2 linked regions of the Homo sapiens genome follow. The protein of the gene in region 1 purifies or fractionates together with the protein of each later gene. This does not show direct contact. Each region holds a gene or a part of one and is shown in the gene's direction. Other genes may lie near its edges.

The links.
Region 2: the proteins of PLEKHG6 (region 1) and BPIFA2 purify together in Homo sapiens (affinity purification with mass spectrometry; 2 studies listed by BioGRID and IntAct, with this or other methods). This does not show direct contact.

The regions. Positions count from the first base shown.
Region 1 is NC_000012.12:6,308,450-6,312,197, forward strand, and holds the start of PLEKHG6 (pleckstrin homology domain-containing family G member 6), read left to right. Parts: upstream 1-2,232; 5' UTR 2,233-2,399; intron 2,400-2,550; exon of another isoform or gene 2,551-2,645; intron 2,646-3,709; 5' UTR 3,710-3,748. UniProt on the Homo sapiens protein: Guanine nucleotide exchange factor activating the small GTPase RHOA, which, in turn, induces myosin filament formation. Also activates RHOG. Does not activate RAC1, or to a much lower extent than RHOA and RHOG.
Region 2 is NC_000020.11:33,166,610-33,170,357, forward strand, and holds the start of BPIFA2 (BPI fold-containing family A member 2 precursor), read left to right. Parts: upstream 1-1,549; 5' UTR 1,550-1,600; intron 1,601-2,521; 5' UTR 2,522-2,536; coding exon 2,537-2,693; intron 2,694-3,748. UniProt on the Homo sapiens protein: Has strong antibacterial activity against P.aeruginosa.

The DNA.
Region 1 (3,748 bases):
TCAACGCCTAGAGGGAAGTGAAAGGGTTAACCACCCCGCCACCCACCACCACCTGCCACTGGGCCCCTCTAGCCAGCTCACCCCAGAGCACTGTAAGCCCAGGCTTGTCTTTGGTGCTCTCTCAATTTCATCTTCCCTCTTATTCCTCCTTCCCACTCCTTCTGGGAGACACTGGGAGGAGAAGCTAGGGGCCATTGGCACCAGCTGTCTCTGGGGTGTCATTTAATACTGTCCGTAATCACCACCTCCTCTCCTGGCTTATTAACTCTTTCCCTCATGGCTACTCTTGTCATCCCTGGACATCTCTCTATCTCTGTCTAGCTCTCACCACACACACACACACACACACACACACACACACACACACACACACACACACACACAGTGAATGGGAAGAGGGAAGGGCTAGGAACTAGGCACACTCTGGTTTCTTGCCACTGCAGTTCCTTTCCCACCTGACTTCACCCCCGAAAACTAGTCCCACCACCAGCTGGGCCAGGAGCAGGAGACAGGCTGGTTCAAGGAGCTGGAGGAACAGAGGACACTTCTGAACCAGCAGAGCAATCACACAACAGCAAGCTCAGAGAAAGAGAATCCCAGAGGGCAGATTTGAGGATGGACACAGGGAATACAAAATTAGAAACTGCCCAAAGATATAGATTCCTCCTCCAAACAAAATAGAGTCACCAGAGTCCGAGTGAGGACTAGAACACTCTGATCATGTATGCGTTTCATAGCCTAGATGGGAAAAGGGAATAGAGGCCTTTTCCCCTGGCAACTCAAGGAGATTCTGCTTCTGAAAGTGTTTCCTGAACTTCAGGATGCTCTGAAGAAGTAAGGAGCCGTATCAATCACTGTTGAGTTCATTGGCAGGAAATAGACCACAGTCAGGGTGAGGGGCTGGGAGCCTCAGACCTGCCACCTGCCAACTACAGGGTCTTGGGTTTCATGGTTGTGAGATTATAATGACCACACATCCACAGGACACTTCTATCTCAAATATCCAGTGCTTCTGTCAGACGAGGTGCCATGATTTGGAGAAGTGAAAAGGTGGGGAAACCGAAGCAGGAGGATCGCTTGAACCCAGGAGTTGGAGTCCATCCTGGGCCACACAGCAAGATATTGTCTCTATTTTCTTTTTAAAAAATAAATTTTAAAAATAAAGAAAATAAAGTATGGTCCTTTCATGCAATGCCCAGCATGTGTCAGTCCTTCCACAGCATCTTTTTCTTTTTCTTTCTTTTTTTTTTTTTTTTTTTTTGAGATGGAGTTTCACTCTGTTGCCCAGGCTGGAGTGCAGTAGTGCTGTCTTGGCTCACTGCAACCTCCACCTCCCAGGTTCAAGCGATTCTCCCGCCTCAGCCTCCCAAGTAGCTGGGACTACAGGCGCCCGTCACCATGCCCAGCTAATTTTTGTATTTTTAGTAGAGTCGGGGTTTCACCATATTGGCCAGGCTGGTCTCCATCTCCCGACCTTGTGATCCGCCCGCCTCGGCCTCCCAAAGTGTTGGGATTACAGGCGTGAGCCATCGCGCCTGGCCCCACAGCATCTATTTTAGCAGCCACCGCAAGGGCTGGGTGACCCTGGTGTAGCCGGGAGTGGGCTTATTTGCAGGTGAACTGGGAGGGTGCCCCCACCTGAGTCTTAGGTCATAGGAGAAGTGCGGGTCAGGCCTCAGCTGCCTATCCCTGGAGCAAAGGCAAAGTCCAGGATAGCCTTCCAGTATCACCTTCCACCAGGCAGGCCAGCCGGTCCTCTGAGAGATAAGGCTCACACTTTGGACTCCACACAGCGACGGGGCCCCCTGCCCCTCCAGCTGGCAGGCGGGCTCCCTGCCTGCTTAGGGGTCTAGGCCGAGGCAGGGGGAGGACCGGACGGCCGGCCACTCGCCGCGACCAGCAGGAGAGAGGGGTGCCTGCCACAGGTTGTCACCCTCGCCGCCTCCCCCGGCGGCGCCCCGCCCCTTACTCAGCCCTCATTACTGCAGCGCCTCGCGGGGGTCTGGCCCGGAGTGGAGGGCGCGCGGTCCCAGCCCTCCCGCTCGGCCGGCGGGTGTCGAGTTCAGGTGCGACCGAAAAGGGGAAAGGAGGGCACCGCCACGTGAGCTGTCCTCTCCGGGGAAGGCGGTGGCTGCGTGAGGGCGGGGGCTGCTCGGTCCCCAGGGCCCCGCCCCTCTGCCCCTCTGCCCCGAGCGGTGCTGGCGGTAGGGAGGGGCCAGCCCGGTCCCCGCCCTCCTCGCCCGGACCCGCGCTGCCCGGCTCCCGCGGGCCGCTCGATCCCAGTCCCAGGCTGGGCATCGGGGCTGGCTGGCATCGCCGGGGAGCCGACGGCGACGGGGAGCCCCGCGGGCGGGGAGGGCGGCGCAGGGCAGCGGGTGCGGTGACACCTGTGGGCACAGGTGAGCGGCGGGAGGGCTACGCGGCCCGGGGGCGGGGCGGCCGGGACCCGGGGCCTGGAAGCCGGGGCGAAGGGGAAGGAAGGCCTGGCCTCCCGAAGGCGGGAGGAGGGGAGCCGGGGGCTGGGCTGAGACAGGACCCTGGGTAGGGAGCAGTGCGAGGGAGACAGCGCCCTCAGAGGGAGGACTATTGGGAGGCGGCAGGAGGGACAGCGAACGTTTCCTCCTCTGCTCCTGAATCGGAGGAAGGTAAGGGAGGGCTGAGGCAGGACCTCAGGCCCACCCGGTCGGGGCACAAACACCTGCGCAGCCTTCTTGAGCCCACCGCCCCTTAGGAGGCCTCTCCTCTTCCAGGCCCTGCCCACTCGAGGGCGGGCCCTCCCTCCAGGTTTAGGGGGGAGGGATGGAGCCCCACGCCTGGCCCCCAGCTCCATGGTGGTATTCCCAGAGTCTGGGGAGGACCAAATATATAGCCCGAAACTGGAGAAACTCTAATTCTATTTGGCTGGTCTCTAAGGGCAGTGGCCGGACAGCTGGCCCCACTCACCTCCCTGTCTGTGGTCAGGAGGGTTCAGGTAGGAGATGGGCAAGCCTTTCAGTAAAGGCCAGACAGTAAAGATTAGAGACTTCGCGGCCTACACCGTCTGTCCCAACTAGCAAGAAGCAGTCACAGGTTATTAGGAGACCAGCAGAAGAGGATGGATTCCAACAAAACTGTGTTTATGGACACTGAATTTGAATATCATGTAATATTTACTTGTCCCAAAATATTGGTGGCTTTTTTGCAGGGGGGGCAGCAGTTGTTTCAACTATGTAAATATGTAAAGGCTTACAGGCTGTACAAAAACTGGTGGCAGACTGGGCTGTCTCCAGCCACCCCCACTCCCAGCCCACCCCACCCACCATGGCCTCCCTCCAGCTTTTTCCCAAGCTTTATATGGGGAAGGGGATGGGGTTATATCTAGGTGCAAGGAGAACCCTCCCACCTGGGTGTATCCAGAAAGCCCGAGACCTGTCTGTGACCCTTGTTCCCATTTGAGACCAGTGCAGGAGCTTGTACCCCAAATATGCACACATGTGAGAGAGGAGGTACATCTCCAAGGGGCTTCCTACCCAATATGTACCTGGACCTACCCTACTCCCACCAAGTCATAGATGAGGCAGCCATGTTCCCCCCAACAAGTGACCAAGCCCTTGGCCCTCTCCTCCCCCACTATACCCTCCCTCCCAGGCCCCCTACCAGCCTTGGTCTCCCGCCTGGTGCCATTCACTGATTGGGGATGGCCCTTCCATTCCTCTTTTCTCTCTTGCAGCCCTAGGGGACCTCTTTCTCCTGGACATTGAAGATATGG
Region 2 (3,748 bases), on another chromosome or scaffold:
CAGCAACCAGCAGAGAGAGAGTATTCATGCCCAGGACAGCCCAAGCCCAGTGCCAGGCTCTGAGCACTGCCCTCAAAGCCCCTCACCATCGTTTTGATTTCCTAGGTCCTTGCCTGTCCACCATGCCTCTGAGATCCAGGAACAGCGTGTTTACCCATTTTACAGATGAGGCAACTGAGGCCTGGGCCAACACCAGGTCTCGAGGTCACTGCATCATGCTCAGCACCCTGGGCTATGTTCCTGGGCTGGGACAAACTGCCTTCACAAGATTTCAGCACAGCCCTTGGCTCTGTGCTTCACAACTGGGGGAAGAGCGGGGCTCAGACGTTTGGAGAACCCGGTGTCAGGCAGCCAGGGAAGGAGGTGTGACAACCATTCAAGACCACAGGCAAGACTGCAGCAGGGGTCTAATGGTCTGGGCTCTTGGGGCCTGGCCATCACCTTCCTGCAGCCGCCCAGCTCTGTGCTGTAACAGTGGAGCCATGGTCAGTGTAGGAACAGCCAGCTCCTGGAGCCACTGGTCTTGTCCCACCGTTTGCTTGGTTGCATCATTTTGAGGACAGGCCCCCCAGGTCCTTGCTGAATTGCAGGTGGGTGAGCAGAAGGGCAGAGACCTATGGTGACCCTGAGCTCTGTGCCAGTCCTTCCCAGCCTGAGGCCAAGTGGGCACCCACCCGAGTTTCCTGTGCTGTTCCGGGTTGACACAGGCCCAATGCAGCAGGCGTTACAACCAACCCAAACATCAGTGGCCGAAGCAAAAACAGGATACTCAGGCCCAGGGACTCTCCCTCTCTGCTAACTGACCTCAGCCTGATATGGGTGGAAGGGTCTTCCCTGGTGGCCCAAATGCCTGGTTCCTGTCCTTGCAAGTATGGACAAGCCACCTCCCTCTCTGAACTTCAGCTTTCTCAACTGGAAAATGGAGCTCTGAAAACCTGCCTTACAGAGTTTTCATAAAGACTAACAGAAAAGTGCATCTAAAGTGCCCTTTAGGGACACCAAGCCCAGTGTCAGCACAAGCAGCTGCCAGGCATCTGCTGCACCTGCCGGGTGCAGACCCCTGGGGGCAGGACCCCTGGGAGGCTGTCTGACTCCTTGTGGGCCACAATTCTAGACCCATCTCGGTCCCTGTCTTGCTGAATGACCCCAGGCTGGTGGCTTCCCCTCTCTGAGCCTCAGTTTCCAAATGATGACGGAGTTAGACCGGATGGTCATTATGGGTCCTCCTGCCAGGACATTCTCCAATTCATTCATTCTCAGTCTTCTCCCAGTCCTCACCCACAAGGACCAAGGACCACCCCCTCGGTAGCTGCAGGCTCCATGAGGACCTGGTCTTAGTCTTGGCGGAAAGCCCTCTCCATAGCCATCCGTTTCAATTCAAGCATCCTGGGTGACCTTTGAGTTGGAAATCTCTCTCTCTGCTCATCCTGGAGAGGGGTTATTTTCCTTGGAGTGTCCTTGGATGATCCCAGAACCAAGGCTTGCTTCTGTGGGCAGCCTTCCATCCCATCTCCACCATATAATAGCCGCCACCATTCAGCAGAATCCCAGCAGACTGTGCAGTGGGGCAAGGATTTCATGAGCATCCTCCTCTAAACGCGTGAGTGGCGTGCTCCCCCCAGTGGCACCACACGTGGTGGTCTTTGGAAGGCTTTGGGGGCAAGAGGCAGAGGGGTGGGATTGCTTGGGTTAGCTAATATTTTGAATACAGCAGAGATAATCAATATATCTCTAAATGTGCTCTAAATGGCAAGTTCGTGATGAGTACTCACTAAAGATTCCATTTCCCTCTGGGCAATTCTTACTCCTGTTCTTCCCATGACTGTCCAGGTGTCAAGACAAATGGCAAATCAGAGTAAATTTAGAGATCTATAGATTATATTAAAATAAGTGTCAAACTAATGAACAATGCAGGGTCATGAGGTGGTCTCCATTGATTTGTTCATACTTATATTCAACAAAGATTTATTCGTTTACTGTACTGTACTAGGTGCAGGCTTTTTACTGGCGCCTGAGGATTCGACAGTGAAATAAGTCACAGTCCTTCCTCTAAGGAGTTCACAGCCTGGTAGGAAAGGTGGTCAAATCATCAGGGAAGTGTTATCCAAGACCTTGATCAGGATAATGAAGGCAGCAAGGTGGGACTCCTCCAACCTAGAATCTGGGAAGGGGCCTACAGTAGGCTTCACAGAGGGCATGATGTAGGAATTGACCTAAGTGGAAAAGTAAAGAAGAAGAAAAATATTTTAGGCAGAGAAGACAGCGTATGAAAAGGAACTTTGTGTCAAGAGTATGGGCTTGGAGTCAAGTCTGACTTTTCAAATCCCAGCTCCTCTGCTCACTGACTGTGTGTCTCCGGGCAAGTTGCTGTAGCTTTCTGACCTTGGCTGCCCATTTGTAAAATAGGAAATAACCACATCTATCTTAATGGAATGCTAAATGTTAAGAGTGATGGGAACTCACTGAAGAGTCCATTTCCCTCTGGGCAATTCTCACTCCTGTTCTTCCCATGACTGTCCAGGTGTCAAGACAAAAGATGCTTCAGCTTTGGAAACTTGTTCTCCTGTGCGGCGTGCTCACTGGGACCTCAGAGTCTCTTCTTGACAATCTTGGCAATGACCTAAGCAATGTCGTGGATAAGCTGGAACCTGTTCTTCACGAGGGACTTGAGACAGTTGACAATACTCTTAAAGGTAAATCAACAAGGGTGATGAACAGTGTCACCTAAATTAGCCTCCTAAACACTATGCCTGCATTACCAGAGGCTGCCACCAGGGGCTACTCTTTATGGGCGGTTTACTGAGAAAAGTGGCTATTCAATTCCTGACTCATTCGTTTATCTTTCTAGAAACAAGCAATGCCACAATGAATAGCCTTTTACATATTATATCCTGATAAACGTGCATAAGATAAATTCCTACAAGTGGGATTTCAAAAGTTCAAAAACTATGCTGTTGACAAATAATCTCCTATGTTAACACTTTCTCCAACAGTCTACGAAAGTGCCTTTTTTCCCACTCCTTTTCCAGCACTGGGTATGGACAACTTTAAATATTCTGCCTGTCTCACAGATGAAAAGCTATAACTTATTTCACTTTGCATTCCTCTAATTATGAAGGAGCCCTCTTCTTTTTTCATATATTTACTATGTACTTACATATTTTAACTTGAGGATTTTGTCTATATTCTTAGCATATTTTTCTTTTGGGTTGTTTAATATTCTTTTATGGACTTGTGTTAATTCAGTGAAAATTAAGGAAATTATCCCTACCTAGCCTTGGTATCTGTAAAGCTACCTACCTTTATATTTATTTATACCTCCTTTTTATGCTAACCTATTAAAATAACTTGGCTTTCTTTTTGTTTTATGGAAACATTAGCAGCACATCAAAAACAGTTTTTGTAGGAGGAGGTAACTTCTGCAAATGGCTGCCTTTCAAACCTTGTCAAGGGCTTAGGTAACTTTCAAAGATGCAGAAAGGACTCACACTCTAATTTCACAGCTGAGAAAACTGAGGCCCAGAGACAGAAATGTCTAAACCAAAGTCACCTCGTGAATTATACGATTAGACGTAGTTATATCACCAATTTTATTTAAAGTGTCATTCTCTGAATCATTATAACTAGGTAGATATTGTCCATTACAGAGCCAAGTTACAATATTATGATTACATCTCTTTTCTTATACGGTATAGTCTTTTGTTTTTCCTTAAGTTAGTAATTGCCCTGTTGTTTCTCACTTGAATTA